Linked DNA regions of Homo sapiens. The protein of the gene in region 3 purifies or fractionates together with the protein of the main gene of each other region. This does not show direct contact. Each region holds a gene or a part of one and is shown on either strand. Other genes may lie near its edges. The genes, in order: DNAAF9, MAP7 and CTIF.

Region 1 (3,649 bases), on a different chromosome or scaffold from region 3:
AGGTAATCACAGTTTTTTCTCTAAGAGGAGAGGAGTTGGGACAGTGGGGCAAGTTGGTGAGAGAGCATTTCTGTGAAGAGAAACAAAGACCACCACGTAGTACAGCCCCACATGGTGAGAAGACCCGCTCTCACGGGCGGGCTCCGACCCCTCTTTAAAAACTCTTCTGCAGCAGCCAGACTGCCAGGCCAGTGCAGTCAGGAAATGGCTCAAGCTCCTAAAGCTAGAGCTTTCATTTAAAACTTCACAGCAGCCCACTTAGAGAAATGGCCTGTGGTTCCCACCCCCCAACCCCTTTTCTAAGGCTGCTCAAGTTTGAGTTTTTAAAAAGAGTTCGGTAGAGCTAAAGGAAGCTACAGTAACTCACTGCTTATTAATCAATTGCACTTAAGATCTATGTTACTGATTCTGAAGCGAGGCAAGCCCTTGACGGACCGCAGCCTCTGGCCAGCCAGAAGTCAGGGGGCTCCCAGACTTAGGTTCCACAGTGGGGCCCTTGTCATCAGTGGCTTTTGGAGCTGGGACTGGAGCACGTGGGTCTTTTCAGAAGCCCTTCTTGATGCAAAATTTCTTATCAATGGTATCTGGAGTTTTGTTCATTTGGCTTCAAATTGTTTTTTTTTTTTTTCTAATATATTTTACTGACAAGCCCTTGAGAGCTGCTTTGCTACTTGCATGCAGGCCTCTGTGTGACCAGGCACACAGACTACATGTGCTCCATCTTGTCTCTCCGCTGCTCCAGGGGCCTTGCTCAAAAACCCCCTATATTACTGGAAACTGCTGGTTTTACCTATGTGCTTCTTCCTAAGGCATGCAAAAAAAAATATGTGAAATTCAGAAAACATTTACAGTTCAGGCAGCTGAGGCACTGAAGTCCTAAGAGACATCACCTAAATATCAGTGGCTGTGACTCCCCTGTCCCCCACACCAATTATGAAGGTCAGGCATGGGACACACTTGTAATTCCCCTCTGCTTTATGGTCCAGCTTAAAACGATGCCATTAGAAGGAATTCTAACTCAGGTATTGCAATTATTTGAAATTCCCAATCCTCAGGAGCCACACAAGCCCAGGGCCAGCAACAACACTTTGGGGAGCGGGGGGATGAGTTTCCTGAAGTTTGTGGCTGAAAAGCAGGCCTTCCTTGGCAAGGCTTGTGGGAGCGCTGGGTGCTGGAGACTGACCCCACAAGTGATCAGCCACCAGGCCTAAGACTAACCAGCTGCAGGACGCCCCCTTCCACAGTGAGGTGAAGCCTCGCCAGGGGGCCTGAGCAGCAGGCTTGCTCTTGTCCCTACATTAGGACACCCGAATGGTGTGACAGGAGAGCTAAAGAACCACCCACAAGGGGAAAAGCTGATGTCAACTTAAGAGCCACACACCTCTGGAAAGCAACAAGCCTCTCCTTCAGTTTAGTCCAGAAGGGAAATCCCCTCATTTGTGAACACATCATTCATCTCAACCCAAGCTGCTGGCTCTGTGGACTGGGCCTGGGCAAGGCTGTGCTGCTCCTCCCAGGACTGGGCCCACGGCCAGTACGGCCAGCTCCTTCAGGGAAACGGGCCTAGCAGGGGAGGCAGGCACTCCACTGGGGAAGATGGCTCTCGTGGAGCAGCATCTGAGGCTTGAGGCCTGTCGTGGCCTCGCCTCCCAGACACGGCCACAGTTCAGGCAGCCAGGGTTCCTTCTAAGTCCCAGTAGCTCCTCTGTGTAATCCTAATGCTTCTCCCCAACCTCAAGAGCCCAAAGGAGATCCTGTTATCAGAAACCCAGAGCTCCTGGACTGCCAGTTGCACACGTAGACGGGCAGGCCCCATCTGCTCATCCTTGAGTATTCCCCCGACCCCCAAAATCAATGGTGCAGGTGATGCTCTTCAGCGCTATACAGGGAATAAAGACAACATGCACTCAAGCCAGCCCACACAGGCCAAGGAGAACAAAGACAGCCCCTTAAGGGAGAGGCCTCCAGCAGAGCTGAGGTTAAGACACCCGTTCGTCCATCTCCAAGGTGGACATTCTGCAGGACGTACGGGCCCAGCCTTCCTCTAGGGCTTCAGCTCAAAGAGGTCATGATACTCCTGCTGTTCCAGCTCCTGGTTATACTTCTCAATTTCCCGGTTGGCTTCTTCCACGTAGTCATTCATGAACTGGTCCATGACTGGTATCTCATTAAGGAAGAGAGCTCTGAGCCTGGAGGACAAGGGAGGCTGCCTGAGCCCAGAGCGGCCTGTAGGCAGGTGAGGGGGGTTTGCTGAGGAAGTGAGTGTCTGGCCCATAGAGAGGGAACCTGATGGACTCTTTGTATATACTGGCAGCACCACAGCTACAAAGAATGCAATGGCTGTTGTCACAGGGATGTTAATGAGGTCCTAGAACTGAGCCCTTCAGCTTCAGCCCTATCCATCTTTTCACAGGTTAACTGTTGTAATTAGGCTGTCTTCGACTTGTAAATCGTGACTCTGATGACGACAGACTTCAGGATATCACCGCAGCTGCATCCAAACTATAACTCACAGGCTGGGCGCAGTGGCTCATGCCTGCCATACTAGCAATTTGGGAGGCTGAGGTAGATGGATCACTTGAGCCCAGGAGTTTGAGACCAGCCTGGGCAACATGGCGAGACCTAGTCTCTAAGCTGGGCGCGGTGGCTCATGTCTGTAATCCCAGCACTTCAGGAGGCTGAGGTGGGAGGATCACCTGAGGTCAGGCGTTTGAGACCAGCCTGACCAACATGGAGAAACTCCGTTTCTACTAAAAATACAAAATTAGCCGGGCACGGCGGCAGGCGCCTGTAATCCCAGCTACTCGGGAGGCTGAGGCAGGAGAATCACTTGAACCTGGGAGACGGAGGTTGCAGTGAGCTGAGATTGCGCCATTGCACTCCAGCCTGGGCAGCAAGAGTGAAACTCCATCTCCAAAAAAAAATTAAAACAAGACAAAACCAAAAAACTATAACCCAGAGTCACATTAGCAATCACTCAATAAAGGAGCAATTTAACTTTAACAGCTTTAGAGACTGAAATGAAAAGTTCGCCCCTGAGGTTTGCCCCTGTGCATTCCTGACCCATCAGTGGACATGCAGAGTGCTCCTGGGGCTCAAATGCATGGCTCTGGCAGACAACCGCTTTGCAGACAGGGTCACACACTCCCAGCCTCACTGCCCGGGTTCCACACAGGGACCACGCTGTTCCAAGGATACGTGGGTGAAAATCAGTTTTGTCACCAAAGAAGTTAACAAATTGGGTGCCATTATAAAAGTAGCCTGCAGGTAGGGGTTCCAAGTGGCGTTTTACCTGTAGGAGAAAAGAGACCTGTAATAATTATCTGACTACTTTCTATACTTCACTCACTCATTAAAACAAACAAGTCTATTTCCCTAGCAAGATAGACTACTCTGCTATACAGAGGAGCTAGGAAGCTAACACCCCCGGCAAACCTCAAGCCCTGCCTGAGGTGGTTCCCCACCTCTCAGGTGAGGAGCTCTGGGAGGTCCTAGTGGGATGAAGTTCCCACGGTGTGCAGTGGTACTGATGTGCAAACACACTCTTTTATTTATTTATTTATTTTTTTGAGATAGAGTCTTGCTTTGTCACCCAGGTTGGAGTGCAGTGGCGTGATCTTGGCTCACTGCAACCTCCATCTCCTGGGTT
Region 2 (3,649 bases), on a different chromosome or scaffold from region 3:
ACAGTCAACAAAACTAAAAAAAGAAAATAAAAGAAAATCCGTAATTTTTTTTGCACACAAATTATTTTTTTCGAGAAGGTGTCATGCTCTGTTGCCCAGGCTGGAATGTGGTGCTACCATCTCGGCTCACTACACCCTCCGTCTCCCAGGTTCAAACAATTCTCCTGCCTCAGCCTCCTGTGTAGTTCGGATTACAGATGTATGCCACGACACCTGGCTAATTTTTGTATTTTCAGTAGAGATGGGGCTTTGCCATGTTGCCCAGGCTGGTCTCGAACTCCTGAGCTCAAGCGATCTGCCCGCCTTGGTCTCCCAAAGTGCTGGGATTACAGGCATGAGCCACCGCACCTGGACTGTACGCAAATTTTAGAATAGATTTTTTAAAATCCCTCTGCCTATTCAAGGATTTGTAATTTTTTCCTCTCACCAGCAAGCTTTATGGGAGGGTCTATTAAATTGGCTACCTTTCTTCCCAAACTGCTTATCTCACAATCACTTCTAATCTGATGTAGCCCCAACTCTTGCACCAACAACTGAAATTCCTCTTCTGGGGTTGGTCAGTGACTATTTGTAACCAAACCAACAGCTTTTTATAAAATGTCTTCATCAGTCTTTGAATCCCTTACCTCTCCATCCCTCTCAGCAGGTGTGACATTGCTCAGCTGTGCTTTTCCATCTGTCTGCTTTGCTGGCTCTTCCTCCTCCCATGCTTTACAGGTCGTCTCACCCCTTTGTGGTTTTTCTGAGCTCTCCTCACTCCCAAACCTTCAGCTATTATTCCTTTATGGAGTGAATCCCAGAGTCCTGACCTCTATTTTTCTCTTTTAGTCCTATACTTCCAGTTGCCTTTTGAACATTTCCACTTACAGATCTCTCTTGTACCACACATTTTCATGTCTAAAGCAGAGAGGTTTTTTTCCTGTTTCTCCCACCAAAACCTGATTCTGCTGGACACAGTGGTGCATGCCTGTAGTCCCAGCTACTCGAACAGCTAAGCCGGGAGGATCACTTGAGCCCAGGAGTTCAAGTCCAGCCCAGGCAACATAGCAAGACCCGCCCCCCATCTCTTTGGGGTAAAGAACAAAACAGGTCCTCCTCATGAATATTTTCCAATAAGTCAATGAGCCAAACTCAAACTTGGAAAAGTCTCATATGTCACCTTTTTACCTGCAATCCTTTGACACATGCCCCTGCAGAACCTTAAATTAATCGTCTCTTCCTATTGCCATGCTAATGACTGCCTGGATTTCTGCAGGAATCTCAAAGTTGGTGTGTATGTCGCTGAACTCTTCTTCAGTCCATCCTCAAGTCCACGTTGCTACTTTGAAATGAGGACCAGCTGAGTAGACCTAGCCCTTCATTGATCTCCAGAGATTTGGCTAATCTGGCTAGGCAGATATTCCTCATGCATTCTCATCCCTCCAGGTGCACCCTTCCCAAAGCAGTAAAAGAAAAAAAAAAAAAAATCAATGGAAGAGAATGACTTTCCCAGAGGGAGGAACTTTGCTTTCATTAGCTAAAGGCACAGCTGAGCTCTTGTTAGAACTTGCAATCAATATTTCAAGATTCATGGGCACAGAACTACCTGATTATTCCTGCTTTAATCAATATCCTTTATTCTCAAGAATCCTCAACACTTCCCCCACTACCCTACCCCAGAAAAATGTACTAGCCTCTCAGTTTGGCCTTCAGCCCTTCCACAATTTGACTTCGATGAACAATCATTCCTAACTGACCTAGGACTTTCTTTGAGCTTTACACATGTGTCAATATGACCAAAACTTTGCTCTTTTTCACACCTGCATCTTTTTCTCCCTTTCCTCCATCTAATTTTATATCCCACTTACCCATTTTTAAAAGTTTATTTTTTTATTTTTTAAATTAAAACAAATTTAATTTTTTTTTATTTTTGTGGGTAAATAGTAGGTATATATATTTATATGGTACATGAAATGTTTTGATACAGGCATGCAATGTGAAATAATTACATCATGGAGAATGGGGTATCCATCCCCTCAAGCATTTATCCTTTGTGTTACAAACAATCCAATTACACTCTTAGATATTTTTAAAAGTACAATTAAGTTATTGACTATAATCAATCTGCTGTGCTATCAAATAGTATTTGTTACTATTCTTATTCTTTCTAACTTTTTGTTTTTTGAGACATGGTCTCGCTCTGTCACCCAGGCTGGAGTGCAGTGGTGCAATCTTGGCTCACTGCAACCTCAACCTCCTGGGTTCAAGTGATTCTTCTGCCTCAGCCTCCCAAAGAGCTGGAACTATAAGCGTGCGCCACCACACCAGGCTAATTTTTTTATTTTTAGTAGAGATGGGGTTTTACCACGTAACCCAGGCTAGTCTCAAACTCCTGGCCTCATGTGATCTGCCTGCTTCAGCCTCCCAAAGTGGTGAGATTACAGGCGTGAGCTACTGCCTCTGGCCTTTTTTTTTTTCAAACCATTAACCATCCCCACCTCCCTGCCACCTCCCACCCCCTACCCCCACTACTCTTCTCAGCCTCTGGTAACCATGCTTCTACTCTCTCTGTCCATGAGTTCAATTGTTTTGATTTTTAGATCCTACAAATGAGTGAGAAGATGCAATGTTTGTCTTTCTGTGCCTGGCTTATTTCACTTAACATAATGATCTCCAGTTCCACCACTTTTTAAAATTTAACTTCAGTGCTGTATCCAGTATGTTCTTCCTGCTGACCACAGCCGGAAGTGATTCCTCCTTCACTGAACTCCTCATAACCTGCAACTGTTTGTTGGTGAATTTTGTCTTCCTTGCTAAATTCAAGGATCATTTGTTCAACAGCCTTCTAACCACCATAATGCTGAATACACAGAAGGTACACATTTCTTATTCTAAGCCTCAATATTTTCAATTCTTACATCAATACGAGGCCCGAGTTTTTAAAAATAACTCTTCCAAATGATTGTTTCTCATGCATTGGGAGGCAAAGATGTTAGAATTTTTTTAGAGAAAATGCCAGTGTAAATAAACTGTGTAAAAATATTTCACACAAGCCTATCAATATTACATAAATGCATGCTCCTGAGCACAATTGCCTAGTCTAATAATAACGTTTCCTCCTACTTAGCAAGATGTAAAGGTAACAGCCATATAGGATGGGAGAAAAGCTATCTAGCTATGTGAATGAAGCATCTCTTTCAAAGGGGACAAGCTTAATACCAAATTGACGTCTGAGCCCTTATTTAATTGCAGATATTTAATGTGGACCCTTAGAGTTAAGTGACACCTACAAGATCACTTTTTGATTTGGAAAAGTTCATGAAAGGATGGTCACGAAAGAGGCCATGTTCACCACACAGGTTGCTAAAATGGACAAAAAGCCCAATTCCAGATTCTAAGTCATGACCCACTTCCCAAAATATCAACAGAATTGACAGGTTATTGGCATTAACTTATTCCTTCGTGCATGAAAGCTTCATGAATTAATCAAAAGCAGCTTTAAATTTGCTTTTAGTTCAGGAGGTTTTTAAAACAGGCTATCAGACTAGGAAATTAGTGCTGTACACTCGCTTTCCACAGCTCTTGAACATGAACATAAAATTAAATATACAAAGCTTGGGTAGAGGCAGTTTTGTGAATATCACCCATCGTAGGTCGACTACTCAAAAAA
Region 3 (3,492 bases):
ATTGGCTACTGGCAAGCTGTCTGTGGCTCGAATCCTTCTTCTAGAGGGGAGCTGGGTTTGATCTCCCACTAATCCGGGGGTCCTCAACAGTGCTGACTGTGTGATCACATCACGGGCATTTTCATTGGCCAAAGAGACTTCAAAGCAACCGACTTTTGAAAAATAAAACACAATAAACAAAAGAGTGCAAGTGGAACTGCAAACTCCATCTCCCCCGCTGCGCCTGACCCCCTAGGCCTGAGGCTGTGGGGGCTGCAGTGAGGAGGACTTGGAGGTGGGAGGTGGAGCGTCAGCTCTGCCATGGCTGACAAAGGCCGTCAATTACGGGCGGCTGGTGGGGACCGTGCCTGCCTTTGTCCTCCCGGACATCTGCTACACGTCGCCTGCTGCCAGTTGGCGACTGCGGCTGACAGCATGCGGGAACAATGCGAGCCCGTCTCCGACCCACTTTTTCAGCCTTCCGAGGTCCTTTCTGACCCAAGCGGTGCCCCGGCGTGCGAGGCTGCCAAGGTCTCCGAGGAGTCACAGCGATGAGATCCCTCACACAAAGCTCCGTGGGGGATGGGTCTGATGGGGAGGGGAGAGGCGGGAGTGAGGAAGGGGAGGGCCAGGGCCACCAGGAAAAAGAAACATGCTTCCCTTATTGGTGTGAGCTTGCATGCTCGGGCTGGGGGGCTTGTGCGGGGGCACTCCTCTCAGGGATTTGCTCCCTTCCCCGTCTGGCTCCAGACTGGCCACCGACTCTGCCTGCCCTCCTCCCCATTTCTTTCTCCCGCCAGGGCCACCCCTGTCCTCCCGCCTGTCCATCTGGCCCTGTGCACCAGGGCCCCAGCTGCCCGTGGGCCGCCTGCCAGGCCCCCTGGCTGTCAGGCTGTCAGTTTCTGGATGGTTCTGTTGTAGTACTGCGTGATGGGGGGCGTCAGAGGGTTCCAGCTGTTAGCGTGGAGCTCGATGACCTCTAGGAGCAGCGACCGGGTCAGCATGGACTCCGAGGGGCACAGCATCTTGTCCCGTGCGCTGGCCAGGAGCTCTGTCATCATCTCAGGCAGCTGTTCCTCCAGCAGCCGGCCTGTACTCTGCAGCTGCAGACAGAGATGTGGGGTTAGGATGGCCTCGGGTCCCACAGTGGCCCACTGGCCACCCTGATTAGGTGGGCAGGGATAGGAAATAGCTGGGTTGTCTTAAGGACACACAGGCCCAGACCCCTGTGCCACAGCTGGAATGAGGACAGGGAGAGTGGAAGGTGGAGTAGCCAAGAGTGAGAGCTCACATTTACCAACCAATCTGCCAGCAGGATCCAGAGGGATCCGAATATTGCCTACTGCCCAGGGCTGAAAGAGCTGTCACCAGGAACATGCCTCTTGTCCCTTTTACCCAAGAGCCTCCCTCTTCCAGGAAGCCTTCCCTGACTACATCCGCACCCTCAAATGGCTCCATGATCTGTGCCCCTTGGTGATCAGGGGGCCCTGTGGTCATTTTCACTTGCTGGGGCGTCTCTCTGGCAATGAGCTTAGTCATTATTACATGTGTCCATTGGAACTTGAGAGCAGGGGTGATGCCTCCTGTTTCTCTCGCTCTCCTTTTCTCCTGATCCTGATCCCATCTCCCAGCCCCCAGAAGTGACCTCTGCTCATGCTTGTGACAGGAAGTGGGGGAGAGAAATACAAACTGGGGAAGAAGGCCAGCCAGAGGCCGTCAGGAGAGCCCTAGATAATCTTGAAAAGCCCACTGGGAAGGAGCCCCTATTCCTGGACCAGCACACCCCTGGCCAGTGCCCCCCAGGCCCTCTCTATAGAATCTCAGTCCCCGTCTCGGTCCCCAGCCTTGTCCCATTCATTTTTCTAGTCTCTGCCTTCTTCACAAAGCCTCCCTTGAACCCCTGAGCCCTTCCTGACCTCTCTCCCCTGACTCTTCAGGGATGTCTCTGTACTTACACTTATTCTATCTACTCTCTGAGAGCTATTCCTAACCAGACTGGAAGCTGCCTGAGGGCAAGGACCAGGCTTTCTCCTTCTCCCTAATTCCCCCCTAATCCCAAGCCCCCTGTAGGGTGCCCAGCTGGAGGCCAACAAACAAACTGAGTCCCACAGACCCAAGACTGCCATCTGGCTCCCAGTGCTTCTGGCCTCTGAGCTCCTCAGTGAGGCCTTTGCAGCCAGGCGGAAGCCACCTGAGTATGCTTATGACAGCTGCCAGGCCCAGGTCCTCGTCTGGAAGCCCCTCTCCTGCCTGCATCCCACTCTGAGTGACTCTGGACCATCTGCAGAGGGCAGAGATCTGCCCAGGGACTGGGCCAAAGCCAGGCGCTAAAGGGAGAGCCCAGAGGAAGAGTCTCCATTAGCAGGGGCCACAGCTTAGGGACAGGAGTGGCACCTCCCAAGAGGTGTGCTTTCGGGTGGGCTGTGCCAGCACTGCATTGCCAAGCATTAGCAAAGCAAAGGGAAATATTTGAGGGCAGAGGTAATCAGGAACTTCTTAAGTCATTTGTGTGGCATGCCTGAGCTGGGGCGCAGGGGGTCTTTGGGGGACAGGGAAGTAGGCAATGCCACTGGGAATCACTTCTCTCTCCCTTCAGTCAGGGGTGAGCTGCTCTCACCATCAGTGTTCACTCTGGCTTGGGGTGGATAATTCTGGATGCAGAAGTCCATGCCCACTCCTGAAGCCATCCACCTACCTTCCCCTGGACTTGTAAATGCCTCCAACAACCCTCGTGCCCCTAGAACTGTTAAGGCATGAGAGATGCACCGGCTTTGAGGTTGGGGATGTCGAAGCCCCAAAGCTTACCTCCATAGAGCAGCAAAGGACAGCATCTTCCTTCACATCCTGAGATTGCAAGAGCTGTGGAAGAGAGGGGCAGAGAGCACCACTGAAGGAGACATGCCGGCTACTGGGCCCTGTAGCTCCCTGCAGCCCCCGCCGACCTGCAGCCCCAGCCCTGATGCGGCCTGTAACAAACATCTCCAAGGTTCAGGCTAGAGTGAGAGCCCACAAAAGTCAGAGAGCAGAAAGTCAGTTGCGCCGGGTGGCCGTGATTTCTCCGACAGGGTTAGAGCAGCTGGAGGTCAGTGTGATGGTGCGATGTGGAGCCCCTGGGCCAGGTCTGAACACCGTGATTCAAGAGGCCACTGAAGAGAAAGCCTGCAGCAGTGAGTGCGCTGGGATCATCCAGTGTTAACAACTGGTCAGCAGAAGTCCTCAGGGAAATGAAATTAGCTTAGAGACGTATAATTGGTAACTCCTCTATGGGTGAGGAGGTTCAGCCATTGACTCAGGCACCCCTGGGCCCTGGCCACAGGAGGAAGTCCAGGAGTCAAAGCCCTCTTCTCCACTGGCCCAGTGCTGTAGACTTTCAAACCCACAAACCTGTGGACTTACTCAGGGGCTGGAACTGTTTCCTAACTAGGGCCATGGCTGGGCTGCTCAGCGCTCAGTCCTGCCGTGCTACAGTCCATGCTTCCCCCGACTTGCCTGGCTCATTCTCTCAATCTCTCT

What was found.
Region 1: the proteins of CTIF (region 3) and DNAAF9 fractionate together in Homo sapiens (co-fractionation; one large-scale study listed by BioGRID). This does not show direct contact.
Region 2: the proteins of CTIF (region 3) and MAP7 purify together in Homo sapiens (affinity purification with mass spectrometry, with the first as the bait; one study listed by BioGRID). This does not show direct contact.

Annotation. Positions count from the first base shown.
Region 1 is NC_000020.11:3,250,528-3,254,176, forward strand, and holds part of DNAAF9 (dynein axonemal assembly factor 9), read right to left. Parts: intron 3,293-3,649; coding exon 3,199-3,292; intron 2,158-3,198; coding exon 2,045-2,157; 3' UTR 1-2,044. UniProt on the Homo sapiens protein: May act as an effector for ARL3.
Region 2 is NC_000006.12:136,543,868-136,547,516, forward strand, and holds part of MAP7 (ensconsin), read right to left. Parts: intron 1-3,649. UniProt on the Homo sapiens protein: Microtubule-stabilizing protein that may play an important role during reorganization of microtubules during polarization and differentiation of epithelial cells. Associates with microtubules in a dynamic manner.
Region 3 is NC_000018.10:48,856,934-48,860,425, reverse strand, and holds part of CTIF (CBP80/20-dependent translation initiation factor), read right to left. Parts: intron 2,839-3,492; coding exon 2,785-2,838; intron 1,083-2,784; coding exon 867-1,082; 3' UTR 1-866. UniProt on the Homo sapiens protein: Specifically required for the pioneer round of mRNA translation mediated by the cap-binding complex (CBC), that takes place during or right after mRNA export via the nuclear pore complex (NPC).